2 separate regions of the Homo sapiens genome follow, and region 2 is linked to region 1. Evidence: fine-mapped QTL for protein levels in blood plasma. A gene starts in region 1. The other region holds a variant in brackets. All regions are shown on one strand. Distances are between the middles of the regions.

Evidence for each region. PIP is the chance, under the fine-mapping model, that this variant and not a neighbour inherited with it causes the effect. The UK Biobank Pharma Proteomics Project read protein levels with antibody pairs (Olink). The fine-mapping took linkage between variants from a reference panel, not from the people measured, so its PIPs are less certain.
Region 2: its variant is fine-mapped to the plasma level of the CPPED1 protein (UK Biobank, PIP above 0.99).

Annotation. Positions count from the first base shown.
Region 1 is chr16:12,795,616-12,811,814 of GRCh38, reverse strand. CPPED1 (calcineurin like phosphoesterase domain containing 1) reads left to right here and starts at 7,928. Exons shown (of 4, transcript NM_018340.3): 1 at 7,928-8,108. The coding sequence starts at 8,039. RefSeq lists a silencer at 7,847-7,896 and enhancers at 7,977-8,346, 9,669-9,748.
Region 2 is chr16:12,761,012-12,777,210 of GRCh38, reverse strand. The region is part of intron 2 of CPPED1 (calcineurin like phosphoesterase domain containing 1); the gene reads left to right. Among named protein-coding and RNA genes, the nearest start is that of CPPED1, 35 kb to the left of the region's middle. The variant A/G (reference allele first, on the strand shown) is at 8,253.

The DNA of each region.
Region 1 (16,199 bases):
CACATAAAATTAACCATCACACAGCCTAACCAGGAATGACAATACCCATCAAAGCAAGGCCCAAGTGCTTCTCTCTAAATGCGGCCTTACGCTCTTATGCCAAGCCTACTGGCTCCAATCCATAAACCAACCTGGCTCATAGTTTTAACAAGCTTTGTCATCCAGCTTCACAAACTGGGGCAGATGAGAAACAAGGGAAGGAGACAGACAGGACTTGCAAGAGACAGATGCAACAAAAAGCAAGGAGTGACTGCCCACAGGCTGGGAGCAAGGAGACAGAAGATCTATAAAAAGTGGACAGAAGAACTATAAAAGCTCAGCAGCCCAGAGTCCTTGAGTGTTAGGACAAATTGTTCTGCCTGCTTCAAGAAGTGAGGCTATTCTACAGCCCAGTACAGAAAATGATGTTCTTAATCTTATATCTAGGACTCTAAATAACAGCACATTTAGATTAGAGCTTTTTTTTTTTTTTTTTTTTTTGACAGAGTCTCGCTTTGTTGCCGAGCTGGAGTGCAATGGCACAATGTCAGCTCACTGCAACCTCCTCCTCCCAGGTTCAAGTGATTCTCCTGCCTCATCCTCCCAAGTGTCTGGGACTACAGGCACGTACCAACACACCCAGATAATTTTTGTATTTTTAGTAGAGATGGGGTTTCACCATGTTGGCCAGGATGGTCTCAATCTCTTGACCTTGTGATCCACTTGCCTCGGCCTCCCAAAATGCTGGGATTACAGGCGTGAGCCACCACGTAGATTAGGGCTTTTTACAAGTATAGCTGTTACAAGAAGTGGGAGGGAAGAAAAAGGGCAGTTTTTTTAAAGGGTGGAGAGCGGGGATGGTAGTCATTGGCCTTTGTGACTCCCCCACCCCCACCTCAACATTCACTCCTGCACGGGTTATGTAATGGATTACCTATTGGCTCTTTTTAACAATTGGTTCTTCCTTTCTTAGGACAATGGCGTCAAGATTTCATTTTAAGAGAATTGTGCTCCCCACTCTTAGGCATGTAACTAGGGTGAAATTGACACCATGCCTTCTTTAGGGTGGGCCTCATGACTGCAGCCAGTTTAAATATGCCATCTATCCTTCTAACTTTGGTTTTAAACTGGCATTGCAGTGATGCAGGGGATGTTTGCTGGAGGATTCAGAGGAAATAAAAGACACTTCCTTCCTCACCTCACTGGGTGGTGTCTCATGAGAATGTGGTCTAGAACTGCTGTAGCCATTCCGCTCCCATGAAGGAGGAGCCTGGAGCTTCCAAGTGATTGGGAGGAAGTCTTCTCTGTAGAGAGTGATGATAAAGCCAAAATTATAAAGGGCAGAGGATGTAACTGTCCAACAAGTTCTCCTTGTCTGCTGCCTGGGCAGAGCCAATTTATCAAGACAGGGGAATTGCAATAGAGAAAGTTTAATTCCCTCAGAGCTGGCTGTACCGGAGACCAGAATTTTATTACTCAAATCAGTCTCCTTGTGAATTTGGGGATCAGGTTTTTTAAGGATAATTTGGTGGTTAGTGGACCTGTGAGTCGGGAGTGCTGATTGGTTAGGTCAGAAATGAAATCATGGGGAGGCCAGGCGCTGTGGCTCACGCCTCTAATCCCAGCACTTTGGGAAGCAGAGGCAGGCAGATCATGAGGTCAGGAGATCAAGACCATCCTGGCTAACATGGTGAAACCCCATCTCTACTAAAAATACAAAAAATTAGCCAGGCGTGGTGGCAGGCACCTGTAGTCCCAGCTACTCGGGAGGCTGAGGCAGGAGAATGGCGTGAACTCGGGAGGCAGAGCTTGCAGTGAGCCGAGATCGCACCGCTGCACTACAGCCCGGGTGATGGAGCTAAACTCCGTCTCAGAAAAATAATAATAAAATAAAATAAAAATAGAAGAAATGAAATCATGGGGAAGTTGTCATCTTTGCACAAAGTCAGTGCCTGGGTGGGGGCCATAAGACTGTTACTGGAAAGGGGTCTCTATCCAGACGCCAAGGGAGGGTTCTTGGATCTCACACAAGGAAGAATTTGGGGCAAGTCCATACAGTAAAGTGAAAGCAAGTTTATTAAGAAAGTAAAGGAATAAAAGAATGGCTACTCTATCGGCAGAGCAGCCCTGAGGGTTGCTGGTTGCACATTTTTATGGTTATTTCTTGATTGTATGCTAAACAAGGGGTGGATTATTCATGAGTTTTCCAGGAAAGAGGTGGGGAATTCCTGGAAATGAGAGCTCCCCTTTTTAGACCATATAGGATAACTTCCTGATGTTGCCATGACATTTGTAAACTGTCACGGTGCTTGTGGGGTATCTCTTAGCATGCTAATGCATTATAATTAGTGTATAATGAGCAGCGAGGATGTCCAGAGGTTTGCTGTCATTGCCATCTTCATTTTGGCTGGCTTCTTTACTGTAACCTGTTTTATCAGCAAGGTCTTTGTTTTGTTTTGTTTTGTTTTTTTGAGATGGAGTCTTGCTCTGTCACCCAGGCTGGAGTGCAGTGGCATGATCTCGGCTCACTGCAACCTCCACCTCCCGGGTTCAAGTGCTTCTCCTGCCTCAGCCTCTCAAGTAGCTGGGATTACAGGCACCTGCTACCACACCTGGCTAATTTTTATATTTTTCATAGAGATGGGGTTTCTCCACGTTGGCCAGGCTAGTCTCAAACTCCTGATCTCAGGTGATCCGCCTGCCTTGGCCTCCCAAAGTGCTGGGATTATAGGCATGACCCACCGCGCCCAGCCTAGCAAGGTCTTTACGACTGTATCTTATGCCGACCTCCTAAGGTCCATCCTGTGACTTAGAATGCGTAACCTCTTGGGAATGCAGCACAGCAGGTCTCAGCCTTATTTTACCCATCCCCTATTCAAGATGGAGTCTCTCTGGTTCAAATGCCTCTGGCAAGACCAGGCTGGGCATGGTGGCTCACGCCTGTAATCCCAGCACTTTGGGAGGCCGAGGCAGGTGGACCACTTGAGGTCAGCAGTTGAAGACCGGCCTGACCAACATGGTAAAACTCTGTCTCTACTAAAACTACAAAATTAGCCTAGCATGGTGGCATGCACCTGTAATCCCAGCTACTTGGGAGGCTTAGGCAGGAGAATCACTTGAACCCCGGAGGCAAAGGTTGCAGTGAGCCAAGATCACACCACTGCACTCCAGCCTGGGCGACAAGAGCAAAACTCTGTCTCAAAAAAGAAAAAAAGTGTGAACCCCAAATGTCTGAGACAGTTCTCAGACAATTTAGGAAGTTTACTTTGCCAAAGTTAAGGATGTGCACCCATGACATAGCCTTGGGAGGTCCTGATGACACGTGCCAAGGTGGTCGGGGCACAGCTTGGTTTTATACATTCTAGGGAGGCATGAGACATCAATCAATATATGTAAGATGTACATTGGTTCCGTCTGGAAAGGCGAGACAACCCGAAGTGGGGAGGGGGCTTCCAGGTCACAGGTAGATAAGAGACAAAAGGTGGCTGGGCACGGTGGCTCATGCCTGTAATCCCAGGACTTTGGGAGACTGAGGCGGGCAGATCACCTGAGGTCAGGAGTTCAAGACCAGCCTGGCCAACACGGCAAAACCCCGTCTCTACTAAAAATACAAAAATTAGCTGGGCGTGGTGGCAGATGCCTGTAACCCCAGCTACCTAGGAGACTGAGGGAGGAGAATCGCTTGAACCTGGGAGGCAGAGGTTGCAGTGAGCAGAGATCATGCCACTGCACTCCAGCCTGGGCAACACAGCAAGACTCTGTCTCGGGGGAATAAAAAAAAAAAAAGGTTGCATTCTTTCCAGTTTCTGATTAGCTTTTCCAGAGGAGGCAGTCAGAAATGCATTTATCTCAGTGAGCAGAGGGATAACTTTGAGTTCTGTCTGTCCTTTGTCTACAAGGAAATTCCTTCTGAGCGACGTACGTAGCTTTTTTATCTTAGTAGGTTTTTTTTTTTTTTTTTTTGAGACAGTTTCCTTCTGTCACCCAGGCTGGAGCGCAGTGGCACAATCTCAGCTCACTGCAACCTCCGTCTTGTGGTTTGAAGCGATTCTCCTGCCTCAACCTCCCGAGTAGCTGGGATTATAGGCATGCACCACTACAACTGGCTAGTTTTTGTATTTTTAGTACAGATGGATGTCTCACCATGTTGGCCAGGCTGGTCTCAAACTCCTGACCTCAAGTGATCCTCCTGCCTCGGCCTCCCAAAGTGCTGGGATAACAGGTGTAAGCCACTGTACCCAGCCTTAGTAGCTGTCTGTTTCAGCAATAGAGTGGGAGGCAGGTTTGCCCTAAGCAGCTCCCAGCCTGACTTTTCCCCTTGGCTTAGTGATTTTGGGGTCTCAATATTTATTTTCCTTTCACAATTGCAGCTATTGCTATCATCCAATGCACTGGTACAGTTTTGAAGTTGCTCCAGATTGGCCTATAGATCTATTCCCAATTGCTGCTGAGGTTCAAAATATGGTTATCTTGTTGAGATATTCATAATCCATTTATTTATTAATGCAACAAACATTTAGTGTCTATGCCTCAGGCATCCTGCTTGGTGAGCTAGACAGTCAAGGTAACTGCCCTCAGCTGGGCGTGGCGGCTCATGCTTGTAATCCTAACACTTTGGGAGGCTGAGGCAGGAGGATCACTTGAGGCCAGGAGTTCAAGACCAGCCTGGATAACAGTGAGACACCATCTTTATAAATAATAATTTTTTTTTTGAGACAGAGTCTCACTTCGTCACTCAGGCTAGAGTGCAGTGGCACGATCTTGGCCCACTGCAACCTCCGCCTCCCAGGTTCAAGTGATTCTCCTGCCTTAGCCTCCCAAGTAGCTGGGATTACAGGCGTGCTCCCATGCCTACCTAATTTTTATATTTTCAGTACAGATGGGGTTTCACCATGTTGGCCAGACTGGTCTCGATCTCCTGACCTCAAATGATCTGCCTGCCTTGGCCTCCCAAAGTGCTGGGATTACAGGCGTGAGACACTGTGCCCGGCCAAAACAGTAAATTTTTTAAAAAGGTAACCAACTTAATAGACCTTATAGTTGAGTCGGGAAAGTCAACATTAAATAAATAATTACACCTGAAAACATATAATTATCAACTGTGCAAAGTGCAACAAGGGACAAGAACATAGTGCTCTAACAAAGAATGAGGGAGGCCTAGTTTAGATCAGCAAAGTGTGCAAATGGGTAGGGCATGGCCTCTCCACAGAAGTGTTATTTAACTGCAGGCCTTCATGTTCAAATGGGCTTTAGCTCAGCAGGGGAAGATACTTTTTTGTTTGTTTGTTCGTTTTTCAGACAGAGTCTTGCTCTTTCACCAGGCTGGAGTGCAGTGGCGCGATCTCAGCTCACTGCAACCTCCGCCTCCCGGGTTCAAGCAATTCTCCTGCCTCAGCCTCCCGAGTAGCTGGGATTAAAGGCACGCGCCACCACATCTGGCTAATTTTTGTATTTTTAGTAGAGACAGGGTTTTACCATGTTGGCCAGGATGGTCTTGATCTCTTGACCTCGTGATCCACCTGCCTTGGCCTCCCAAAATGCTGGGATTATAGGCATGAGCCACGGTGCCCAGCTGGGAAGAGGCATTTTAAGCAGAAAGAACTGCATATGCAGAGAGGGAAATTAATTTGCATGTTTAATGAACTGAATGGCCAGTATGACTGCAAAGCTAGTGAATAAGAGGCAGGGTCTGTTTCTATAATTCATTCTCTCCTTCACATTTCTTTTAATTAAAAAAAATTTTTTAATAGAGATGAGTTCTCACTATGTTGCTCAGGCTGGTCTTGAACTCCTGGGCTCAAGTAATCCTCCTGCCTAAACCTCCCAAAATGCTGGGATTACAAGCATGAGCCATTGTGCTCAGCTTCCCCTTCACATTTTTTTTTTTTAAAGACACAGTCTCACTCTGTCGCTCAGGCTGGAGTGCAGCGGCGGGATCTCGGCTCACTGCAACCTCTGCCTCTCGGGTTCAAGTGATTCTCCTGCCTTAGCATCCCGAGTAGCTGGGACTACAGGCGTGCACCACCACACCCAGCTAATTTTTGTATTTTTAGTTGAGATGAGGTTTCACCATGTTGGCGAGGGTGGTCCCGATCTGTAGACCTCATGATCCGCCACCTCCACCTCCCAAAGTGCTGGCATTACAGGCCTGAACCATTGCGCCCGGCCTCCTTCACATTTCTTGGGACTCCTCCTCTGGGCCAGGCCATGTTCAGGGAATAGGGTTATAGTGATTGATTAATAATAACAATGGCTAATATTCATTGAGTACCTACCATTTGTTATTAGAACTATTATTCTAAGCACTTTGATACATGAACTCATTTAAGCCTTTCTGCAACCCTATGACCTAGATGCTACTATTGTTTCCATTTCACAGATAGGGAAACTGAGGCATAGAGAAACTATGCAATTTTCAAGAGCATACAACCAGTAAGTGGGTAGAACCGGGATTAATCCAAGCCCACTGACTCCAGGACTCATAGGCATTTATACTCTTAACCACTATGATTCATGGGTGACTCTTGTCAAGGATTAGAGAACAGTAGTTATGGCCATATTAGCTACTCAAACAGTGCTTTGGATGTAGGCAGCTAGTTTAGAAAAGAATTTCCCAAATTTGTAAGATCATAAGAGCTCCCCTGCAGTGCTTGTTAAAAACAGATCATTTTCAGGCCAGGCACTGTGGCTCATGCCTGTAATCCTAGCACTCTAGGAGGCCCGGGTGGGTGGATTGCTTGAGCTCAGGAGTTCCAGATCAGCCTGGGCAACATAGTCAAACTCGTCTCTACTAAAAATACAAAGTATTAGCCAGGCATGGTGGCGCACGCCAATAGTGCCAGCCACTTAGGAGGCTGAGGTGGGAGAATCACCTGAGCCCAGGAGATCGAGACTGCAGAGATTGTGCCACTGCACTCCAGCCTAGGCAACCAGAGTGAGACCCTGTCTCAAAACAACAACAACAACAACAAAACACAGATCATTTTCATAGAGATTTGGATTCAATAGGTCCATTCTGGAATTTGTATTTTCAACACGTTTGACAAATGCTGGCTAAGTAGTTCACTACAATGGCTCTTGAGTTGAAGAGACACTAATTTGGTTACTCGCAGCTTTACTACCTCTCTAGATGTGTGTCACCTTGTGCAAGTTCGTTCATCTCTCTGAGCGTCAGTTTCCCCAAATGACGGATGCAGCTAATAACAGCACCACCTCCTAGGGCTGTAGTGGGGATTAAGTGAGCAGCGTGCAAAGTGCTTAGCGCCCTGCCTGGTGCATAGCAAGCAAAGATAATAACAGAAAGATGGTGGCAGCCACTGGGAAGTTCAGGCTGAGACAGTCTTCCAAGACGTCCACCTTTTCATCTTTTTTTTTTTTTTTTTTGTATTGGCAAGGTCTCTCGCCGTGTTGCCCAGGCTGGTCTCCAACACCTGGACTCAAGCGATCCTCCCTCCTTGGCCTCCCAAAGAGCTGGGGTTACAGGCGTAAGCCACCCCAGTGGCTCCTTCTGACTTTATGATAGAGTTGTCAGATAAAAAAAAATCAGGACGCTTCCATTCAAACCTGCAAAAAGAGAAAAATTTAAAAAAATTAGGACGCCCAGTTCAATTGGAATTTCAGATAATGAAAAAAAAATTTAACGTAAGTAGCTCCCAAATACTGCATAGGACATATTTATACCAAGTCAGTCATTCTTTAAAAAAAAAAATCTGAAATTCCAATTTAACCGGGAGTCCTGCATTTTTACTTGTTAAATCTAGTAACTCTGCCTTTAGGGAAGGACTGACCCCAAAGCCTTATCCCCGCCCACGCGTGCCCTAGACAGTCTCCACTCGCCAGGCGCGCAGGTCGATCCCAGAGGGGCCGCTGGCGCCTCCGCTCCGCCCAGGCAGCACTAGTGGCGCCCCGAGCCACCGGGCCCCTCCCCGTCCCGCCCCAGTCCCGCCCCGAGATCAAAGGGCGTCGCCCAAAGCGGGACAGGTCCAGCGGTTGTTCTGTGTGAAGTCGCGCGGCTTCCACCCACGCAGTGTTCTAAGTGAAGGCCAGAAACTCGCTCGCCATGTCGGCTGCAGAGGCGGGGGGTGTTTTCCACAGAGCCAGGGGCAGGACCCTGGCCGCGTTTCCCGCAGGTACTGCCCGCCCCTCACCCGGGGAGGGGACTCTGGGGCTGCGGAACCTTCCGCCGGGGGAACCTTTTGTTCAGGTGTGCGCTCCGCCAGTCGGACACCATCCGGGGCTGCACCGGGGCCTGGGAGCCGCCATAGCTGCATCAAAGCCTGCTCTTAGGGATTCCAGGGGCGCAGTTGAGAGGCGAGGCCGAGAGAGCGATCTGGTCTAGGAGCCTCCTTGGCCTTGACCTAACTTCCCCCAGAGAAGGGAAGTAAGAGGAGGGTAGCAAAGCATAGTTAATGACAGCTTGGACTCTGCAGCGAGACCTGGTTTCCAAGCTGTGCATTAGCATCTTGGCCTCAGCTTCCACATCTGTGAAACGGGAATACTTGTGGGTGTTACTGGATAAGCGTTCGGTGCATGTTAGAGGGTGTCGGTTTTATTAAGGTTGTTCACCGTTATGTATTCTGTACTCCATAATGACGTTTATTTAAGTCATTCACCGAAATGGTAACACTGCCCCATCAGAGCAGTAGAGAGGGAGGGCATTCGAGAGTCGTAGTGAAGTGCTTGGATTTTGGATTTAGATTATCTGCTTTGCCTTAAAAATGGGTTTGATAATACCTGCCTCATAGGGTTGTTGGAAGCGTAAACAGATCAAAAGTATTTTTGTAACCCGGTGTTGGACGCATGCTAGGTGCTAAGTAAAGAGGGAGGTTTGTTTCTGGTTTGTTGATTCCCCTCTGTGGCTTTTTGCTGCCTGCAGCCAGATCGCCTCCCAGGCTCTCACCAGCTTTATACCCCCAGGGAAGTCACCCTAAATGCCCTATATGATCAGGCTTGTGTCCACTTCCTTCAGGGTTGTCATTCTCTCTCTTGCCCAGTTCTGCAACAGGTTTTGTTGTTGCCCTTGTTTGAACTGCATTTAAAAGGGCCAAGGCCGTTCTTTCCCTGAGGGTCTTGGCGCTTGCTGTTTTCTGCTTCTTTAGCAGGGTTGGTGAGCCTGGCTCTCTCAACCGTCACACCTCATTTTAAAGTTCATTCACTTCCTCAGAGACTTTACCTGCTACCTTATCTAAAGTAGGTTTCTCCGGTAATTCTATGGTAAAACCTTATTTATTCATTTAAGGCGGAGTCTTGCTTTATTGCCCAGGCTGGAGTGCAGTGGCACGATCTTGGCTCACTGTAACCTCCGCCTCCCGGGTTCAAGCGATTCTCCTGCCTCAGCCTCTGGAGTAGCTGGAACTATAGGCACGCACCACCACGCCCGGCTAATTTTGTATTTTTAGTAGAGATGGGGTTTCTCCATGTTGGCCAGGCTGGTCTCGAACTCACAACATCAGGTGATCCGCCGTCCTCAGCCTCCTAAAGTGCTGGGATTACAGACCTGAGCCACCGCGCCCGGCCTGGGACGACTGTATTTTAATGGACCTTGTCTTTTTTGTCCAACATGAAGATTTTGCTCTTTTCTTGCTGGGCAACATTCCATTGGATGATTATATACCTTATACATTCTGTTGATGTATATGCTGAATATCTTCCCTTTGCCTCTCCAAACCTTTCTCCCTTCCCCACCATGCCCCAGGGGTTTGCCCTCCGTGAGCTACATCGGTGGGCTCCTTGCCTTTTGGTTTTCCTTTGGGCTCAGCCAGTGGGGAGCCCTGAGAAGAAATCAGAGCAGGGAGAGAAGCAAAAGGCAGCTGTATTTATTCTTGCAGTTTACTCTGTGGGGTTGCCTCGCCTGGCTGTCTTCCTCCCCACCCCTGAAGGTCAAGGTCGCTCCTTTTCTCAGGACAGCTTTTCTCCTCATTCTCTCTAGTTCTGGATTTGAGTAACCATTTCCTCCTTTGAGGCGTGGGAGTGGCAGTGGTTCTGCTTTTCTAACCTTGGGTTACCACACTCCCTTGTAGGTTTCGTCCACCCAACCCCCACCAAGTAATCCCTTTTTAAACCCTTTTTAAAATCATCCTAATTTGAGAATGCCAACTATTTCCTGCAAGGATCCTGACTAATACAATGGCCATTTAGTTGTTTCTGGTTTTTGCCCTTGGTAACAGTGCTGTTATGAACATTCTGTACAAATCTCTTTGTGGACACATGGGAGAGTTACTCTGAGGCATATACCTACAAGCTATGTTCTGGGTTATAGGGTATAATCATCCCCAGCATTACTAGATGTGGTCAAACTGCCTTCCAAAGTGGTAGTGCCAATTTATACTCCCACCAGCAGTATATGAGAGTTCCCTGTTACTCTGCTGTATTATTTTTTTTTTCAGTTCAAGAAATATTTGTTGTGGGCTGGCTGCGGTGGCTCACGCCTATATATTTGTTGAGGGCCGGCCGCGGTGGCTCACGCCTGTAATCCCAGCACTTTGGGAGACTGAGGCGGGTGGATCACCTGAGGTCAGGAGTTCGAGACCAGCATGGTCAACATGGTGAAACTCCATCTGTACTAAAAATACAAAATTAGCTGGGTGTGGTGGCACATGCCTGTAGTCCTAGCTACTTGGGAGGCTATGGCAGGAGAATTGCCTGAGCCTGGGAAGCAGAAGTTGCAGTGAGCCGAGAATGTGCCACTGCACTCCACCCTGGACAACAGAGCAAGACTCCAGCTCAAAACAAACAAACAAAAAAACCGAAAGGAAATAAATATTTCTTATATTCCTATTGCACTGTCCAGTATGGTGGAGAATAGGAAGTTGGGGGCGGGGGAGTGGTTCAAGTTACATGCTCTCAGAGGCTTGTAATAATCCAGGTACAAAGCTAGGGCACAAAAAATAATGCTTGGCTACTGGTGGGCTCTGAGGTCATTCACGCAGGGTTTCCCTGAGGAAGTGTTGCTTCGTCTGATTGCTAAAAGAGGAGTATGAGTTAACTGGGCCACGAAGGGAGGGAAGACCATGTGGACCATGGGCAGAGCAAGTGTGAGAGTCCTAGGACATGGCAGGATGGGAAAGGGAAGGATGAGGGCTGAAGGAAGTCTCTGAGTCTGGAGCAGAAAGATGAGGTTGGGACATGGTGTGGGCTGAGGCTGGAGAGGGAGGTGGTGGTAACTAAGGATTTTTGTCGTGTCCTAATAGCATCAAGAGGTTTCAAGCTGGATGTGTGAGGAAGCAAGGATGTATGATCAGATTTTTATTTTGAAAAGAGTGGTCTGATTGCAGCAATGGCAACAAAAGCATTTCTACTTTAGAGCAACTTGGGATGCAATCCAGTTGGAAGCTGGAGCTCAAGGATTTGTCCAGAGGCTGCATTTCTGTAGTCCCCCATGGTTTACTTTTTTTTTTTTTTTTTTGAGACAGAGTCTAGCTCTGTCACCCAGACTGCAGTGCAGTGATGCTACTCACTGCAACCTCCACCTCCCACGTTCAAACGATTCTCCTGCTTCAGCCTCCCGAGTAGCTGGGATTACAGGCATGTACCACCATGCCCGCTAATTTTTGTGTTTTTAGTAGAGACAGGGTTTCGCCATGTTGGCCAGGCTGGTCTGGGACTCCTGACCTCAGGCACCTCGGCCTCCCAAAGTGCTGGGATTTACAGGCATGAGCCACCGCACTTGGCCCCCATTGTTTACTTTGAATGTGTTTATTTGCTGTAGCTGGAGGTGCCTATTGGGCACGGGGTGTCTTTCAGTGGAGATGGTGGGAGTGCTGAGGTATAGTAGCTTCCTAGGCCATTGCAGCTGCCAGGGGGCCACCACTGGGACCAGAGGATCAGAGAGCAGCTCCCCTGGATAAGAATGGGGATGCTGGAGAGAGACTTGATGATAAATCTATAAGATACCTACCCTGCTGATAGGAGGAGAGAGTGACTCTGAACTTTTCTTAGCCCCGAGTAAATCTAGAAGTGGGGCCAGCACTTGATCTCCTCTGTGAGCCATGCAGTCCCATAGACACACCCAGGATGGGTCATTTAACGGAGGGCCTAGAGAGGCCCAGCCTCAGAGTGTTCTGCTGAGAACCCCAGGTTTGTGGGTTCACATTACTAGGTGCTGAACCCTAGCCTACCATTGCTGCTTCCATTGCACTCATTGACAATTCCCCGGGGTCCTGACTCTATTAGCATCGCTGGCAACTTGGAGAGGTGCCCTTAGAGGCATCAGAGGCCTCTCCAGACTCCTTGGGAAGCCAGTAGATTTGCCCCTTGGGCAGACTGAGAAAGTTAAAGAACTAGCTTTTCGAGGCTGGGAGCAGTGGCTTACGCCTGTAATTCCTGCACTTTGGGAGGCCGAGGCAGGTGGATTGCTTGAGGCCAGGAGTTTAAGACCAGTCTGGCCAACATGGCGAAACCCCATCTCTACTAAAATTAAAAAAATTAGCCGGGTGTGGTGGCAGGCACCTGTAATCCCAGCTACTTGGGAGGCTGAGGCAGGAGAATCACTTGAACCTGAGAGGCGGAGGTTGCAGTAAGCCAAGATTGCCCGCTGCACTCTAGCCTAGGAGACAGAGTGATGACTGTGTCTCAAAAAAAAAAAAAAAAAAAACTGACTTTTCCCCTTCTCTTGCCAAAACACACACCATCAAAGGGGTTTGATTAACTCAAGCAACAGTCCCTAAAAATCACAGCTCTGAACCCTTCACCTTTGCTGCAGAATCAGCTCATTGAGCAGTTTGTTTTCCAAGTGTAGCCTGCCAATTAAATGAAAGAGCGCTTTGCTTTAAGACCCATTTCCTCCCACCGGTGATTTACGTGAGTAACAGTATTCCCATCAACTCCTTCCAGTAGTGGTATGTGTGACACTTGGTTTCAGTCATCCGTTCCCTGTTAACATAATGTGCTAGGCTCTGTTGACGGATGTTGATTAAAAAAAATTGTACATGTCTCACCTGAGAAAGCTCACATTCCTAAGGCATGTTCAGATATTCATTTTAATTAGGCAAATTGATAATTAGGTTTTCTTGACACATATCCTAATTAGGACTACTTTCTTCTAGTAATTGTCTTTTGAGAAGTTTATGGCTTCTGTTTTGAAGAAATCCTAAAAGGGAGAGAGATCAAGATAAAATATGCTTTTAAAGTGACTTAATTATTTTTAGGTCTGAATCTGTTTTTCCAGTTTGATATTTTCCCTTCAGAGAACTGGACTAATGGGTGGTATTCTTAAAAAGATTATTTTCCCAGACATTTCATTCCTAAGAAGCTGATGGAATTTGCTAATCCTGAATCTTTCCTTGTACTCTCTGGAAAACTTCTCCCTTGGCAGAGAATAGTGTCAGTAAAAAAATAACTCACTCTGTCTCTTGCAGGTCTCACCTAAGAACTTTTCTAGAAATAGTAGACCTGGAAAGGTATCTCCAAGTTTGAACAAAGTTGAAAATATTGTGGTTTTAAAAATTCTAACAGGATGATGATGATGAAATAAATGCTTTAAATTGTGCCATACATTTAGGCCAAACTAGTTATCTCTTATTTGAGATATATTTGAAGGTCCTCTTATTTGAGAGTTCCTGTGAGTAAATAGGGCTTATGATTACTTTCTCAACTCTTTGTTGTAATCATCAGTCAAGGGATAGAGTGACCAGCACACATATGTAAAAAGTTTGCACTATAACATTTCCAGAAAACACAATTAATTTTATTTTTGAATGTCGGGGTTTTTCATTTTCAAAAATTTATTTATTTATTTATTGTATTTTATTTCTTTTGAGGTGGTCTTGCTCTGTCACCCAGGCTGGAGTACAGTGGTGTGATCATGGCTGATTTGCAGCCTCAACCTGTGGTGCTTAAGTGATCCTCCCACCTCAGCCTCCTGAGTAGCTGAGACTACAGGCGTGCACCACCATGCCTGGCTAATTTTTAAGTATTTTTTTGTAGAGACAAGGTCTTACTGTGTTGTCCAGGCTGGTCTTGAACTCCTGAACTGAAGCTATCCTCCCACCTCAGCCTCCCAAACTGTTAGGACAAGCTTGTCCAACCCATGGTCTGCTGGCCACATGTGGCCCAGGATGGCTTTGAATGTGTCCCAGCACAAATTCCTAAACTTTCTTAAAAGTTCGGAATTTTTTGCCATTTTTTTTTCAAGCTCATCAGCTATCATTAATGTTAGTGTATTTCATGTGTGGCCCAAGACAGTTCTTCCGTTGTGGCCCAGGAAAGCCAAAAGATTGGAAATCCCTGTGCTAGGATTACAGGTGTGAGCCACTGGGCCTTGCCTGCTTTAAAATTTTTTTTGGAGACAGGGTCTTACTCTGTCACCTATGCTGGAGTGCAGTGGCATGATCTCCGCCCACTGCAGCCTCCCCCTCCTGGGCTCAAGCCATGCTCGATCCTCCCACCTCCACCTCCTGAGTAGCTAGGAACAGAGAAGGTGCTACCACGCCTGGCTGATTTTTATATTTTTTGTAGAGACAGTTTCGCTGTGTCACTCAGGTTAGTCTTGAACTCTTGGACCCGAGCAATCCTCCTGCCTTAGCCTCCAAAAGTGCTGGGATTACAGGCATGAGCCACCGCACCTGGCCTAAATTTTTTTAATAACTTTCTTGAGGTATAATTTATGTACCATAACATGCATTTTAAGTTTACAACTCAAGGGATTTTATTAACTTTAGAGTGGTGTAGTCACAATCTAACTTTAGCACATCTCTACCTTCCCAAAAAAGTGGTTTTATACCCACTTGCAAGTCTCTTCATGTTGCCACTCCCAGCACAGGCAACTGCTAATTTACCTCCATAGATGGGCCTTTTCCGGACATTTCATGTTAATGGAAAAATATGTGGTCTTTTGTGACTGGCCTCTTTGTGGTAGCATAAGGTTTCTGAGGCTCACTTATTTTGTAGCTTGAACCAATACTTTGTTCCTTTTTACTAAATGATATTCCATTGTATAGATAACCCATTTTGTTTATCCGACCACCTATTGATAAACATTTGGACATTTTTTTTTTGACACTGATGGACATTTCACGCATCTGGGTACCTCTTGTCTATTGGGAATAAAGCTGCTATGAACAGTCACAGACACATCTTCTTAAGGGTATTTGTTCTCATATCTTTTGGGTAGATACCTAGGATTGGAATTGCTGAGTCATACGGTAACTATGTTTAATATTTTGAGGAACCACCAAACTATTTTCCAAAGCAGATGCGCCATTTTACATTCCCACCAGCAGTGTATATGGGTTCCAGTTTCTCCATATCCTTGCCAACATTTCTTATTGCCACTCTTTTTTATTATAACCATCCAAATCGGTGTGAAGTAGTATCTCATTGTGAGTTTTTTTTGTTGTTTTTTTGAGACAGAGTCTCACTCTGTCGCCCAGGCTGGAGTGCAGTGGCATGATCTCGGCTCACTGCAAGCTTTGCCTCCTGGATTCAAGCGATTCTCCTGCCTCAGACTCCCAAGTAGCTGGGATTTCAGGTGCACACAACCACACCTGGCTAATTTTTGTATTTTTTAGTAGAGATGGGGTTTCACCGTGTTGGCCAGGCTGGTCTGGAACTCCTGACCTCAGGTAATCCACTTGCCTCAGCCTCCCAAAGTGCTGGGATTACAGGCATGAGCCACAGTGCCTGGCCAGTTGTATGTTTCTTCTTGTGACTTTGCTGTCTTTTTCTACCTGTACACTATAAATTCTTGAGGAGCAAGAAGCCCAGACCTAGGATGGTGTCTAGCAGTAGTAGACACTCAGTGGCTTTTTTTTTTTTAAGACAAAGTCTTGCTCTATCGCCCAGGCTAGAGTGCAGTGGCGTGATCTTGGCTCACTGCAACCTCTGCTTCCTGGGTTCAAGTGATTCTCCTGCCTCGGACTCCCAAGTAGCTGGGACTACAGGTGCATGCCACTGCACCTGGCTAATTTTTGTGTTTTGGTAGAGATGGGATTTTACCATGTTGGCCAGGCTGGTCTTGAATTCCTGACCTCAAGTGAACTGCCCACCTTGGCCTCTTGAAGTGCTGGGATTACAGGCCTAAGCCACCACGCCTGGCCTCAGTGACCATTTAATATTGAGTAAATGGATGAGTATGAATGAATACACTCCACCTGGGTCACCTGGGTGTATCTGTCCAACCCACTGCTCTCATGTACCATGGAGTCTCCGGACTAAACAAAGCTGAGACCAAGGTGTTGATCAAACCAATAGAAGTTGTTGGCTGGGTACAGTGGCTCACGCCT
Region 2 (16,199 bases), 35 kb after region 1:
ATTCTTCCCTTGATATAAAGTTTCCTTGAAGAGTTCTTCATGTATTCAGCTGCACTTGGGCAACTATTCTGTGACTTAGTTTCAGTTGATGATGTAGCCCTGGGAAGTCCTCTGTTCTGTAAAGGGAGGCAAGCCTGCTTTAGTATTTGTATTAGTCTGTTTTCATGCTGCTGATAAAGACAAATTTCAGACTGAGTAATTTATAAGCAAAAAGAATAATTGCCTCACAGTTCCACGTGGCTGGAGAGACCTCACAATCATGGCAGATGGCGAAAGGCACATCTTTTTTTTTGAGATGGAGTCTCACTCTGTTGCCCAGGCTGGAGTGCAGTGGCATGATCTTGGCTCATTGCAACCTCCGCCTCCTGGGTTCAAGCGATTCTCCTGCCTCAGCTTCCTGAGTAGCTGGGACTACAGGCACACACCACCACACCCGGCTAATTTTTGTATTTTTGGTAGAGACGGGATTTCACCATGTTGGCCAGGCTGGTCTCGATCTCCTGACCTCGTGATCCACCTGCCTCAGCCTCCCAAAGTGCTGTGATTACAGGCGTGAGCCACCACGCCCAGCTGAAAGGCACATCTTATATGGCAGCAGACAAGAGAGAAGAGAACTTGTGCAGGGAAACTCCTCTTTACAAAACCATCAGATCTCGTGAGACTTATTCACAGTCACGACAACAGCATGAGAAAGAACCCCCCCAGTTCAGTTACCTCCCACCAGGTCCCTTCCACAACATGTGGGAATTGTGGGAGCTACAATTCAAGTTGAGATTTGAGTGAGACCACAGCAAAACCATATCAGTATTATTCCAAAGGATGGTATGTTAGTTTCCTGTTCCTGCTATCACAAATTACCACCAACTTAGTGGAATCAAACAGTTCTCTTACCATCCCAGGGGTCAGAAGTCCAACAAGAACCTGCAGCGGTGTGTTCCTTCTAGGGGTTCCAGCTTCTAGAGGCCAACTGCGTTTCTTGGCTCATGCTCCTTCTTCTGCCTTCAAAGCCAGCAGCATTGCACCTTTTCTCCCGTCTGACCTCTGCTCCACCCTCTCATATTCTGTTACTCTGATTCTCCTGCTTTCCTCTTGTAAAGATCCTGGTGATTATATTAGGTCCATCCAGATAACCCAGGATAATGTTTCCATCTCAAGATCCTTAACATAATCCCATCTGCAGATTCCCCTTTTGCCATATAAGGTAGCATATTTGTAAGTTCCAGGAGTTAGGATGTCGAACATCTCTGGAGGGACATTGTTCAGCCTACTGCAGATGGCAGGGACTGGAATTCAGGGTCTGTTATCTGCCAGGAACTGTGTTACTATCTTATCTACTCATTACAGTCTTGCAAAGGAGGTGTCATTGCTATTTCCATTTTAATTGATGGGGAAACTGGCTCAGAGCAGTGAATTGCTTTTCCCAAGGCCACTCAGCTTGTAAACTGGGAACTCTTGTTCATCTGTTTCCAAACCTTGTGCGCTTCGTTTTGCAGCCTGGCTGGTCAGACAGAAGGTGGTGCCCAGAGCAGCAGATGGAGCTGTTAGAGATGTAGAATCTCTGCCCTGCCCAGACCTAATGGATCTGAATCAGAATTTTAACAAGATTCCCAGATGAACTGTATGGACAATGAGGTTCAAGAAGCACTGATAGATTGAGCATCCCTAATCTGAAAATCCAGTATGCTTCAAAATGTGAAACTTTTTGAGCACTGACATGACACCATAGTGGAAAACTCTACACCTTTGGTCCCAAGCATTTTGCATAAGAGATACTCAACCTATAGTAGTGATGATGAGGATGATGGCAGTGCTGCAGGAAAAGTACCCATAGATGACATGGTGAAAATGTGTGTCTTAGTCTGTTTTCTGTTGCTTATAATGGAATATCTGGAACTGGGTCGTTTATAAGAAATGAAATTTATTTCTTTCAGTTATGGAGGCTGAGAAGTCCAAGGTCAAGGGGCTACATCAGCTGAGGGCCTTCTTGCTGGTGGGGACTCTCTCTGCAGACTCTCAAAGTGGCACAGAACATCACATGGGGAGGGGGCTGAGTGTGCTAACTCGGGTCTCTGCTCTTCTTAAAAAGCCACCAGCCCAGGGCAGTGACCCACATCTATAATCCCAGCACTTTGGGAGGCCAAGGCAAGTGGATTGCTTGAGCTCAGGAGTTGGAGACTAGCCTGGACAACATAGTGAAACCCCGTCTATACAAAAAATAGAAAATTATCCAGGCATGGTGGTGCACACCTGTAGACCCAGCTACTTGGGAGGCTGAGGCGAGAGGATTGCTTGAACCTGGGAGTCCAAGCTTCAGTGAGCCGTGATCATGCCACTGCACTCCAGCCTGGGTGACAGAGCAAGACCCTGTCTCAAACAAACAAACAAACAAAAAACACACAAAAAAGCACCCTGTCCCACTCTCATGATAACCCATTAATCCACTAACTCATTCATTCATTAATCCATGAATGGACTCATCCATTCATGAGGGCATGGCCCTCACGATCCAGCCACCTCTTAAAAGCCCCACCTCTCAGAACTGCCACACTGGGGATTACGTTTCAACATGAGTTTTGGAGGACACAAATATTTAAACCATAGCAATGTGTGGTGAGCTTTTGAAGGACTAGAACAGCATGCATTCATAACAGATCAAGAAATTGTGTCAGTTAATAAAAGAGATTTCTAAGACAAAAGCCCTTGTTAATAAGGCAGATGACTCTGGAGGGAACTTTTTTTTTTTTTGAGACAGTCTCACTCTGTCCCCCAGGCTGGAGTGCAGTGGCATGATCTCGGCTCACTGCAACCTCTGCCTCCCGGGTTCAAGTGATTCTCCTGCCTCAGTCTCCTGAGTAGCTGGGATTACAGGCGCCTGCCACCACACCTGGCTAATTTTTGTAATTTTAGTAGAGATGGGGTTTCATCTTGTTGGCCAGGCTGGTTGAACTCCTGACCTCAAGTGATTGCCCTCCTCGCCTCCCAAAGTGCTGGGATTATAGGTGTTGAGTCACTGAACCCAGCTTGGAGGGAACATTTTTAAAAAGCCATCTAGCAGAATGCCTCCTCATCCCTGGCGGACTCACTTTCTGGTCCCTCAACTGCTTCTGATGTTTCTTCTCACCTGAAAAAATAAAATACAGTGCACAGGAGCCTTTGAGTCAGAACGCAGCATTGTGGGTGGAGACTGGAAGCCTGCTGTCATCTGTTGCTGCTGAACAGCTGAGGCAGGTATTCCAGTGATGCCACTGTGCTGCTTAGTTTCCCTGGGCACACTGTTTTCTCCCGTGTTAATGGTGTGTCATATTTTTTACTGTTAAGTACTTAGGTGTGAATAGGTGTAACAAAATGATTGTTTACTGGTAGCATGTAAATTGAGAGTCAGGAATCGCGGTGATGCCAAATCACCACAGATTGTTCACGTGGGTGGCTGAGACAGACACTTTTTATTTTATTATTTATTTGTGTATTTTTATGTATTTTTATTATTTTTTGAGGCACAGCCTCACTCTGTCGCCCAGGCTGGGTACAGTGTCATGATCTCGGCTCACTGCAGCCTCCACCTCCCGGGTTCAAGCAATTCTCATGCCTCAGCCTCGAGCAGCTGGAGTTACAGGTGTGCACCACCATGCCCGGCTAATTTTAGTATGTTTAGTAGAGACGGGGTTTCACCATGTTGCCTAGGCTGGTCTTGAACTCCTGGCTGGAAGTGATCTGCTTGCCTCGTCCTCCCAAAGTGTTGGACTTATCAGGCATGAGCCACCACGCCGAGTCGGGGCCACTTTTTAATGTATTAAATGTAATCTTGTGTGTATGCAAGTGGTTTGTGAACATTCCTTTTAACTGATAATGGTGTATATCAGGAGAACCATTATTCCTTTAGACTTACACATGCTCAGCATTTAAAGGGAAATGCTTTAAGTTTGTAGGTTTTGCTTTGCTTTTTACACAACACTGAATAACGCAGGATGACCTCTTCTTACAGGACTTCCAAAATAGCCCTTTGATGTTCAGGAAAACGGCCACACATATATACTTTAAAAGGGTCTTTATGCAGAATGCTTAAGAGAGCTACAATGGCTTCTTTCGTTTGGGTCTTGCACTTGTACATAACCCCTTACCTACCATCTCAAAAGTTCAGAAAGCTCTGAAAACTAAGAGTTTTTTCTTAAGTTTGAAACTAAGCTGGTGGCAAAACTGCCTTCCAAGTGACAAAGGGCTGTTTATGGTCTTTATTGATCCCAATATTTAGTGAGCATATTCATATGTTTTGCTAACAAAATATTACTGGATTTCATTACAGGGCACTGCCCGAGTCCCAGCTTGAAGTATTGTTTAATATGTGTTCTATGACCTGTCTTACCATTCTAAAGTTAGAAAAACTTGGAATTTCAAATGAGATCTGGCCTAGGGGGTTTGGGATAAGAGCTTATGGATCTGCAAAGTTGATACTTTGGGATTTATAGATGAAGAAGCTTTTCATCACTAAAAACAGAAGGCTTTTCTGATTTAATGTCATTCCCCGAGTTAACTTTCGCACATCCATTGCCCAGTAACTGCATTTTCAGAAGTTAAAAGGGTCCCAGACATCTGATATTTGAATTTTGGGGACCATTTCTATTGGGACCAAAGAGACTCAATATGAAAATGGAATTGAATTTAGAAATGATTCCAACAAATGGAGGAGAGGGAGCATGCACAAAAGTGATATTTGCTATAGATAAAGCAGAATAATCCACTTAGGTAGAAAAGTCTGAACTTCAAGGTAAAGAAGGGCTGGATTTGTGCAGATATGGCTGCAAAAGTCTGGAGAGGAGAGGAAGCAAATCAGTAGAGTGCGTCTAAGAATGGGAGATGCTATGGGGAAGTAAAGTAGAATTACTGATGAAAGGAGTTAGGCTTTTCTATCAGGAAAATGCCCCAGTGAGACCTGAAAACTTCTAATTCATCTAGTTTGGTAGCTGTTCACCTTCAATTAGATGTCAAGGCCTAGACCAAGGTCCTGATAACAGTAGCCATGGCCAAATGACCATCAACACTCCTTCCTCACTAGGAATTTTGTTTTTTTTTGTTTTGTTTTGTTTTGTTTTTCAGACAGAGTCTTGTTCTGTTGCCCAGGCTGGAGTGCAGCGGTACGATCTCAGCTCACTGCAACCTCCGCCTCCCGGGTTCAAGCAATTCTCCTGCCTCAGCCTCCCAAGTAGCTGGGATTACAGGCATGCACCACCAAGCCCAGCTAATTTTTGTATTTTTAGTAGAGACAAGGTTTCTGCATGTTGGCCAGGCTGGTCTCAAACTCCTGACCTCAGGTGATGCACCTGCCTTGGCCTCCCAAAGTTCTGGGATTACATACATGAGCCACCATGCCTGACCCCCACTGGGAGGTTTCTAATTCTGTAATGAATGTATAGAATTGGGAAATAAAGCCATTGAACAAAGAATGCTTTGGTTTGCTGGGCTTCAGGCAAAGAATAAAGCCCTTTGTTTTTCTGTGGTTCCACAATCCAGGAAGGTTGATACTCATTTTCCTCCAGCTGGGCAGACACAAACCCATGAACATAATTCTGGTACAAGACAGGCCATAATAAGCAAAGCCTCGGAGGCATAATTTTGAAAACCAAAGCCAGGATTGAGGCTCTGGCCAGGAAAAGGCCTTATCTCATTGCTCCAACCTCTGCTAGTTCGCCTTCTCCCAAGCTTAGTTCCAAGTTCCTAAAGGGCAGTGGGGGTGTGTGTGTCTGTGTGTCCGTATTGGTGTGTACTTTCATTTAGTGCCCAGTGCAAGGCACGTGGAAGGTATTCAGTGAATGCTGGTTAAATGATTCACAGTTTGTTTCCCGTGATCTTTAGCAAGAAGCCAGCACATGGTAGGCACCCAGTACAGTTTTCTGGAACACATGAATAAATAGTCAATTCATTTATTTAACAAATCTGTATTGAGAGTCTACTTTGCACCAGGCACTATTCTAGATGTTTGTGCTGTGTTAGTGAATGAAACAGACAGAAATCTGTGCTTCACTTAGAAATAAGGAATATAGATACATGTAGATATATTGAAACATGAAGTTCTCCGTGTTTTTTGTTGTTGTCATCCTAGTCTCCTGTAGGATTTAAATGAGGGTAGATACGGATCTTTTTATTGTTACTTTATTAGATTTTTAAATTCTACAAGTAATATGTAGAGACATTCTCCTTGTAAATTTAAAATCTATATTTAAAATAAACTTTGACCACCCCCTAAGTGCTTCCCTCGGGGTCACTGTGGTCAAAAGTGTGCATCAATGTCAGCATGCTCACCCTTTCCCAGCCCCGCCCCGCCCCTCCCCCTTCCTTTCCTTTCCTTTCCTTTCCTTCTCTCCCTTTCCTTTCCTTCTGCCCTCCCTTTCCTTTCCTTGATATAGCCTCACTCTGTCACCCAGGCTGGAGTGCAATGGCGCGATCTCGGCTCACTGCAACCTCTGCCTCCCGGGTTCAAGCGATTCTCCTGCCTCAGTCTCCCGAGTAGCTGGGACTACAGGTGTGTGTGCCACCACACCGGCTGATTTTTGTATTTTTAGTAGAGAGAGTTTTGTTATGTTGGCCAGGCTGGTCTCAAACTCCTGACCTCAGGTGATCCACCCATCTTGGCCTCCCAAAATGCTGGGATTACAGGTGTGAGCCACCACGCCCTGGTCAGCATGCTTTTCTTAAATACAAACGTGATCATACTGTGCACATTGTTGTGTGATTTACTTTTTCTCCTTCCATCTGTCTAGAAAACCTTACATTTGTACATACATGTGAGGCTTTTAATAACTGCATTGCGTTCTGTGGATGGGGATTTCATAATTGGTTAATCTTGCAGTAACGCCAGGTGGGAGTTAATTTGAACAGTGCTGCTGTGAGCATCCTCAGACGTGCTGTTGTACAGTCAGGTAAGTATTTCTTTAGGCTTGAAGTCCAAGAGGGTTGCCTGGGTTTAGAATCTGCCTCAGCGCCATTTGCACTGAGAGCACACCAGGCCGTTCTCTTAGCAGTTCTCTGGGGAACATCTCTCAGGGACAGGGACTGACCAGGACTTTTCTTCCATGCTATCTCTTATTTGTAGCCAACAGCCTCCATCCCTTTCATGTAAGCAATAAGTTCCTGCACCGCCTACCATGTCATAGATACTCAGAACATTTCCATTGAACAGAAACCGTTTTGTTCATATTAAAGTAGGATCTGTTTGTTTTGTTTGGTTTTGTTTTTAAAGAGGCTCAGTTAAATCACGTTTATTTCCGCAGCTGTGTCATTAGCCTTGCGTTGTTATGTTTAAGTGTCTACACCAGGCTCCAAGAAATGCCAGGATTTAAAGACAATTTACCCTACAGTTTAACACAGAGAAACATAAAAAGGGAGTTCTATGCGTGCAAGAGAGTGATGCCATAGTTGAAATATCACCAGCCTCTGGAATGGGCCGGGGCTGTCTGTGCTCAGATTTTCCAGCAGGTCGCGTGTGGGTCGAATGCTGAGCAGTAACCTGGGAGCAATCAGCCAAGCCCCCTGGCTCCTGCACTCCTTCACATCCAGTATGAGCCCGGTGAAATCATCCAGGCAATCAGTGACAATGCCGCCCTTCTGCTGAGGCTGATTAAAAGTGGTTGGAACTAATTTACCTTATATGACTAATTAGGGAACTGGGAATATTACTTAAAAAGTTGTTTCTGATTAGGTGTGTGATCGCCCTTCCACCCCTGCCAGCATTTTCTACGTGGCAGTCCGGCAGAGGAGACACACTGGCTGCTGTCAGTCCTTTATTCCAAGTCTCGGCGTCTTAACCCATTTTGTGCCTCGGATTCCTTCATCAAGTTGCTGAAGCCCCTGGATCCCATCTCAGAATAATATTTCTAAATACACAAAATAAAGTTCCTAGGATTTTCGAGGAAACCAATTCTATTGAAATACGGTTATCAAAATATTTTTTAAATTATTGGATATAGTAATAATTCATGTGTTGGTCTATTATATAACACAGTCTAATAGCAGAGCTAATAACTGTCATAGTTTCAAAATAGCAGTTGAGTTTAAGGCCAGGCACAGTGGCTCATACCTGTAATCAGAGCACTTAGGGAGGCTGAGGCGGGTGGATCACTTGAGGTCAGGAGTTCAAGACCAACCTGACCAACATGGTAAAACCCCGTCTCTACTAAAAATACAAAATTAGCCAGGTGTGGGGGCATGTGCCTGTAATCCCAGCTACTTGGGAGTCTGAGGCAGGAGAATCGCTTGAACCC[A/G]GGAGGTGGAGGTTGCAGTGAGCCGAGATCGTGCCACTGCACTGCAGCCTGGGCAACAAGAGTGAAACTCCGTCTCAAAAAAAAAAAAAAAGAAAAAGAAAAAATGGCAGTGAGTTTAAACCATACCCTGAATTAATCTGCAACAAGTGTGATGTGATGGGAAAAAAAATCCATGTGATCTCTGTTGGTGTGAAATTCAAGGGGGTTGTTAATACCTCTGTAATTTCTACTAACTTCATAATAGAAGGAAATGCTAAATATCAGAAGTTCATGAAAAAACTGGTTTCCTCCCATCGAAGTTCACAGGATGAACCCCAGATCCCCATGGCCCCAGAATAAGAGCCCACACCTGTGTGTACATACGCACATACTCTTGTTCTTTGACTTTTTGGAGGTACCTTTTCATGGTCAACATGTGGCTATTTTAATTGACCAAAATATAAACTCAATGGTGAAACTGTACCTTTAATTAAAGGCCAGAAGTCTTAATCGTAGCTAGAAAAGTGTGGATATTTGATTATTCAATGAAAAGAAGTAGCAAGAGCTCAATAATAGGGACTAGTTAACAGTTGCCTTTTGATTAGGTTAAAAATAAAAAGCATAATCTTTCCGTCTGGGTTCCAGTGTTTAGATCAAAAAGTGAAAACAGAGAGCCTCGCCTTATTTATTTGTTCAGTGAAGCATTTGAGAAGGCTTAAAATGAGCAAAAGCACACAGTAGAGAAGAAATATGTCAGGACCAAAGAAAATAAAAGTTCATATAGGAAGACAAAACCGCAGGGCGAAACAGAAAGGTCTTAAGAGTCCTTTTGGTTGATAGAATTCAGTTGAAGGTTCAGCCAGAGAGAGGTTGTCAAAGAAACAACATCTTATCCGTATCTAAGAGGAATTCAGCTTTTCCTGGAAAATCTTATCTTTAAAGAAAATTTTTATGAAACTTTCCTTCTGGGGCACTAAGTCATACAGTGTCCAATAGGGCAGGGGTTTTTTTGTTTTTTGTTTTTTGAGTCAGAGTCCCAATTTGTCGCTCAGGCTGGAGTGCAGTGGCGCGATCTCTGCTCACTGCAACCTTCCTCCTGGGTTCAAGTGATTCTCTCGCCTCACCCTCCCAAGTAACTGGGACTACAGGTGCCCACCCCCACACCCAGCTAATTTTTATATTTTAGTAGAGATGGAGTTTCACCATGCTGGCCAGGCTGGTCTCAAACTCCTGACCTCAGATGATCCGCCTGCCTCAGCCTCCCAAGTGCTGGGATTACAGGCATGAGCCACTGCACCCCAGTAGGGCAATTTCTCGGCGTAGGTTTCTTTACCTGGGTGTGAGCTCCATGGATGGGCTTCATCCAGCCAGTGGGCCCTGTCAGCTCTGCAAAGTCCAGTGTGTTTGCATAGATGCTTGAGGTCGTGATGATGCTCTGGGGACTGCAGTGGGGAGAAGGTCCACAGCTCTCATCAGATCCTTCAAGGACCTGGTGATGGTTCAGTTTACGTGTCTGCCTGGCTGGGCTAGGAGGTGCCCAGATAGCTGAGAAGACATGATTTCTGGGTGTGTTCGTGAGGGTGACTGAATGAAGAAGATATGCCTTCACTATTTTGGGCAGGCATCATCCAATGCATTGAGGGTTTGAATAGAACAAAAAGATGGAGAAAAGATGAATTTGCCTCCTGTTTGAGCTGAGACGTCTACCTTCTCCTGCCCCTGGACATCGGCACTCCTGGTTCTCAGACCTTTAGATTCAGACCAGCACTAACACCATCAGTTTCTCTGATTCTCAGGCCTTTGGATTTAGACTGAATGAAACCCCCGGCTTACATATGGCAGATGGTGTGACTTCTTGGCCCCTGTGACCCTGTGAACCCATTCCCTTACTAAGCCTCCTCTTACATATCTGTGTATCTCCTATTGGTTCCCTGGAGCACATGACTGATACAGGCTCCATGACTCAAAAAAAAAAATGAGGACCTCTGAGCAACCATGGAGCCAAAATGACTTGGGATCTGAATGCTCTTGTGTTCTGCTCCCACCTGGGAATGCTGTCGCTCATAGCAGACCATGATTGTAGAGGCCGTTAGGCAAATCGGCTATGGCAGTCTGATCAGAGACACCAGACCAGCCCTCTGAGCAGAAGAGTCCTAGAGCCTACCTCCTGTGCTTCCTTGGAGTTTTCTGTTTTTGCTTTTCTTTTTATTTGAGACGGAGTCTTGATCCGTCACCCAGGCTGGAGTGCAGTGGCGTGATCTCTGCTCACTGCAACCTGCGCCCCCCTGGTTCAAGCAATTCTCCTGCCTCAGTCTCCCAAGTAGCTGGGATTACAGGTGCCCGCCACCACACCTGATATGGTTTGGCTCTGTGTCCCCACCCACATCTCATCTTGAATTGTACTTCCATAATTCCCATGTGTTGTGGGAGGGACCCAGTGGGAGATAATTGACTTATGGGAGTGGTTTCCCCCATACTACGAGATCTGATGGTTTTATCAGGGGTTTCTGCTTTTGCATCTTCCTCATTTTTCTCTTGCTGCCATCATGTAAGAAACGCCTTCTGCCTCCCAGCCACGTGAAGCTGTAAGTCCAATTAAACCCCTTTTCCTTCACAGTCTGAGGTATGTCTTTATCAGCAGCACAAAAATGTACTAATACAATACCCAGCTCTCTCTCTCTCTCTTTCTCTCTCTCTCTCTCCCTCTCTCTCTCTCTCTCTCTATATATATATATATTTGTATTTTTTTTGTAGAGATGGGGTTTCACCATGTTGGCCAGGCTGGTCTCGAACTCCTGACCTAAGGTGATGCACCCGCCTCTGCCTCCCTTTGGGGTTTTCTGGAGCTAATGAACGCCTTCTGCAGAAGTTTGCACAATCCCCTGGCAAATCAACATGCCATAGACAAAGCGAGTGTCTTTCTAGCTTGTGCTTAGCTGACTGGATTATTTACATCTTCTTTTTCATTGTTTTTGCTCTAAACACTCATTTCCTGGAGTTAGAACATTTTGCCTCCTTGATGGGCCTATTTTCTGCAACGAAATGAAGCACTGAAAAGGAGCATGATCCCAAAGGGGTTCAATTATCAGGTAATTGGTCAAGTGATCAGAATGTGGAATGAAAAAAAATAATGAGAGGTTGGAAAATGGCGCATTTGAATGCCAGAACGGGTGAGGACATATATTTCGCGAACCCAGAATTTAGAAAGTCACCTGCATGTTTCAAATTCTGTATGGTTTTTCCCCAGTTCCTAAGTAGTTTATTGGAAAGCCATGGTAGGTTCTATTCAATATGTATTATTTGGTTTGTAGAAAAAATTTACCATTCCCTTCTTTCTTTATATATTATTTGAGTGAAATACCACTGTCATCATCCATAAATATTCTTGTGAAGAAATTTTGTATTGATCTGCAAGGTAGCAATGTAACAAATTTCACTTGGATAATATACCTTTCTTAATGTTTTTTTTCCCGAAAGCACATTAAAGCATATTTTATATCATACAAAGCTGCCTATTATGTCAGACAGTTAAATCTCTTTTATTAATTATATCCTAAGCAGGTTAACAGTACAGATTCAACAAGAGTTGCTATAAATATCTAGCAGCCAGCATAATCAGCTGTAGCTGTTAGCTGCAAAATTAAATGAATCTTGTCTGATAACATGTGTAATTTAAAAACTGGTAGAACGTGATGAAGCTTGAGCTGTTAGCAGTGTGGGGCTGGATCACTACCTGAGTAACGTTTATGCCTGCAAAGTTTTAGATCAATGAATTTACATACCTTCATTAATTAGGAAGAGATAATGAACAGCATTAGAGATGGAAGGGATTATGGCTCCATAAATTCTCTGGGACTAGATGAAAGTAAATGTGTTTAATCAAAGGAATAAATCATTTACTTGAGTTCCACTCCAGACTTCTTAGGTCACAGTGTTCCCAGTGCTAGCGGGGACATAGTTCATATGACAGACATGGTTTACAGCGTGACACTCTTCTGTTCCACCAGTCACTGCTCATGACCTTGAGGCTGGCAGGTGAGGTCAAGTTGTTTGACTTTAATTCATTTACTCATTTGTTTCTCTGATGGGAACCGAGGGGATCTGCCTATGTGTTTGCCCCTGCTTAGCAAGAAACAAATACGGTGTCTGTCCTCAGGACACTTACAGGCTAGACAGGCAGAGTCATGAGGCATCAAGAGGTACAAATAAAACAAAATGGTGGCTCTGAGCCTGTGATACCCAAGAGGGTGGGAGGTGGTTGAGTTAGAGAAGGCTCCGTTGAAACTGGAGCACGACTGGGTGGCTCCCACCAGGCTCATGGTTTATTAAAAATTCAAATCAGGCCAGGCGCAGTGGCTCATGCCTGTAATCTCAGCACTTTGGGAGGCTGAGGCAGAAGGATCACTTAGGTCAGGAGTTTGAGACCAGCCTGGGCAACATGGCAAAACTCCAACTCTACAAAAAAATTCAAAAATTTGGCCAGGTGTGGTGGCTCACGCCTGTAATCTCAGCACTTTGAGAGGCCAAGGTGGGCAGATCACTTGAGCTCAGGAATTCGAGACCAGCCTGGCCAGCATGGTGAAACCCCTCTCTACAAAAAATACAAGAATTAGCTGGGTGTGGTGGCATGTGCATGTTATCGCAGCTACTTGGGAGGCTGAGGCACGAGAATCGCTTGAACTTGGGAAGTGGAGGTTGCAGTAAGCTGAGATCGCACCACTGCACTCTGGCCTGGGCGACAGAGCGAAACTCTGTCTCAAAAGAAAAAAAAAAAAATTAAAATCAAACAGTACCAAAAGGTATCCAGAAAAAACCTTAATGTCCCTGTCACCATTGACCTGCTTCTCAGAGAAAGCTACAGTTAATGCTTTTTCATGAAAAATTATGGAAACTTGTCAAGTATGGGTACACTTGCATGTGTAGCTTTTTGTAAAAAAAAAAAAAAAAATGCAAATGGGAGCAAAAAAGACACAATGTTTAAATACCTTGTTGTTGTCCTGGTCTTTCCATAGCAGGATATGCAGATTTGTTTCACTTTTTTCAGTGGACAAAATACCAGCTTGTATTAGGTTGGTGCTCAAGTAATGGCAGTTTTGCCATTACTTTCAATGGCAGAAACTGCAATTACTTTGGCACCAGTTTAGTATTTGAGGCTCAGACTGTGTCCGAAGTCCTGCCAGAACCAGCACTGCAGGGCCCCTCCTGGAGTCCATACGTTTGTGTACATGGGCAGCAGTTGAGAACTGGCCTGTGATGTCAGATGGCTTAAATTCAGATCCTGGCTCTCTTGTTTCCTGGCCAAATAGCTTTGGGCAAGTTATCTAATCTCTCTGTAGCTGAATTTCCTTATCTGTAAAATGCAGATAATAATGGTACTCGCATCATAGGTTTCTCATAAGACTTAAATGAAATAATCTATAAAAGTGCTTAGAATATTGGCTGGCATTTAATACAGCCCAATAACTACGATTACTTCTATTTTTAATAATGACTCTATTGAGATTGAATTCCATACCATGCCACTCATCCATTTCCATTCATTGGTCTTTTGTGTATTTGCTGAGTTGTGTAATGATCACCAAAATCAGTATTAAAACATTTTTACCAAGGCGAGCCATGGTGGGCTCATGCCTGTAATCCCAGCACTTTGGGAGGCTGAGGCAGGCCTCGGGAGGATAGCCTGAACGCAGGAGTTTGAGACCAGCCTGGGCAACATAGTGAGACCTCATTTCTTTTTTTTTTTTTTCAAGGTGGAGTCTTGCTCTTGTTGCCCAGGCTGGAGTGCAATGGCACCATCTCGGCTCACTGCACCCTCCGCCTCCCAGGTTTAAGCAATTCTCCTGCCTCAGCCTCCCAAGTAGCTGGAATTACAGGCATCCACCACCACACCCGGCTAATTTTTGTATTTTTTAGAATAGAGATGGGGTTTTACCATGTTGGCCAGGCTGGTCTTGAACTCCCAACTTCAAGTGATCCACCCACCTTGGCCTCCCAAAGTGCTGGGATTACAGGCGTGAGCCACCGTGCCCGGCGCAAGACTTCATTTCTACAAAAATTTTTTTTTTTTAATTAGCTGGGTGTGGTGGTGTGTACCTGTAGTCCCAGCCACTTGGGAGGCTGAGGTGGGAGGATTGCCTGAGTCCAGGAGGCAGAGGTTGCAGTTAGCTGATATTGTGCCACTGCACTCCAGCCTGGAGGACAGAGTGGAACACTGTCTCAAAACAAAACAAAACATTTTTATCAACCCAGAAAGAAACTCCGTCCCTGTTAGCTGTCATTCCCTATTTCCCTTCACCTCCGACTCCAGCCCTAGGCAGCCACTAATCCACTGTCCGTGTGTAGATTTGCCTATTCTGGATATTTCATATAAATGAAATATACAGTATGCGGCGCCTTGGGATCGACTTCTTTCACTTACCATGATGTTTTCAGGGTTTATCCATGTTGTAGCTGTTGTTGAATAATATTCTACCATATGGATATACCACATTTTATCTATCTACTGCTACTACTTTTTATTATACTATGAGATAAATTCTTAGAAGCAGATTGTTGATTAATTTGAATCACTTTATTCAGATGATAACATTAAGGAAAGTGGAAATTAGATTCTTGCCCTGACATACAGCATAACTAGTACAATATCATATTTTTACCTCCATTACTAAATAATATCCCTAGTGGTCCAAGAAATTGAATTCACCATCTCCGTGGCGTTACCCTCTTCCCCCGACAAAGAAGTAAAAATAAATGAGAGAGTATTTTTAATGTGGAAATTTAAGTCCCAGGGGACTAAGCAGAAGAGGGAGGCCCAGTTCCCTGCCCTTGGGCAGACCCCAGGCTGTCCTCTCAATTAGCCGAGGATATGTTTATTTTAAGACTGTAACTCTTCTTTCCATTGTTCCCATTTAAAAAAAAAATTTACCTTTCCTATGGTGCTGACATTGTTCACTTTTTTTTTTTTGGAGACAGAGTCTTGCTTTGCTGCCTAGGCTGGAGTACAGTGGTGCAATCTCAGCTCACTGCAACCTCCACCTCATGTGTTCAAGTGATTCTCATGCCTCAGCCTCCCGAGTGAGTAGCTGGAATTACAGGCACGTGCCACCATGCCCGGCTACTTTTTGTATTTTTAGTAGAGGTAAGGTTTTGCCATGTTGGCCAAGCTGGTCTCGAACTCCTGATTTCAAGTGATCCGCCCGCCTCGGCCTCCCAAAGTGTTGGTATTATACTATGAGCCACTGTCCCTGGCTCACATTTTTTATCCAGAACATGTTGTCTGAAGATTAAGCCCAAACTTTTGGAAAATAGGAAGCGATTTTACTAGTGTAGTTCCATTGCTGGTATCCATAGCTTTTATTTATTTCTGGTTAACTAGTCTCTTCACAGGGACACCATTTTTCCTGATTGATTCATTATCATTGGGTAAACCTAAGCGGCTACTAGAAATTGAGAAGAGCTTGTTACTAATGTAAATAATAGTACTCGTCATAGTATAGAGCCACAAAGATTGCTGTTTTATTATGAAATAGTTGTACTTTTATCCCTTTTTGCAGATGACCAAACTGTCAGGTCAAACAACTTGCCCAGCACCGCCCAGCTGATGGGTAGTGACCATGTGCTTCCAGCCCATCTCAGAAACTCAGAACTTCTCCTCTTTTCTTTTCTTTTTTTTTCTTTTTCTTTTTCTTTTTTTTTTTTTTTTTGAGACAGAGTCTGGCTCTGTCTCCCAGGCTGGAGTGCGGTGGCGCAATCTCGGCTCACTGCAACCTCCGCCACCCGGGTTCAAGCAATTCTCCTGCCTCGGCCTCCCAAGTAGCTGGGATTACAGGTGCCTGCCACCACGCAGCTTGGCCTCTTTTCTACCCCTGTTTGCCAACTTAAAGCCATCCAAGGGGGAACTCTTATCCGCTGCCTTCTGATGGGCTGAGGCTGCATGCAAACTGGAGAAACAGGAACTGAAGAAGACAG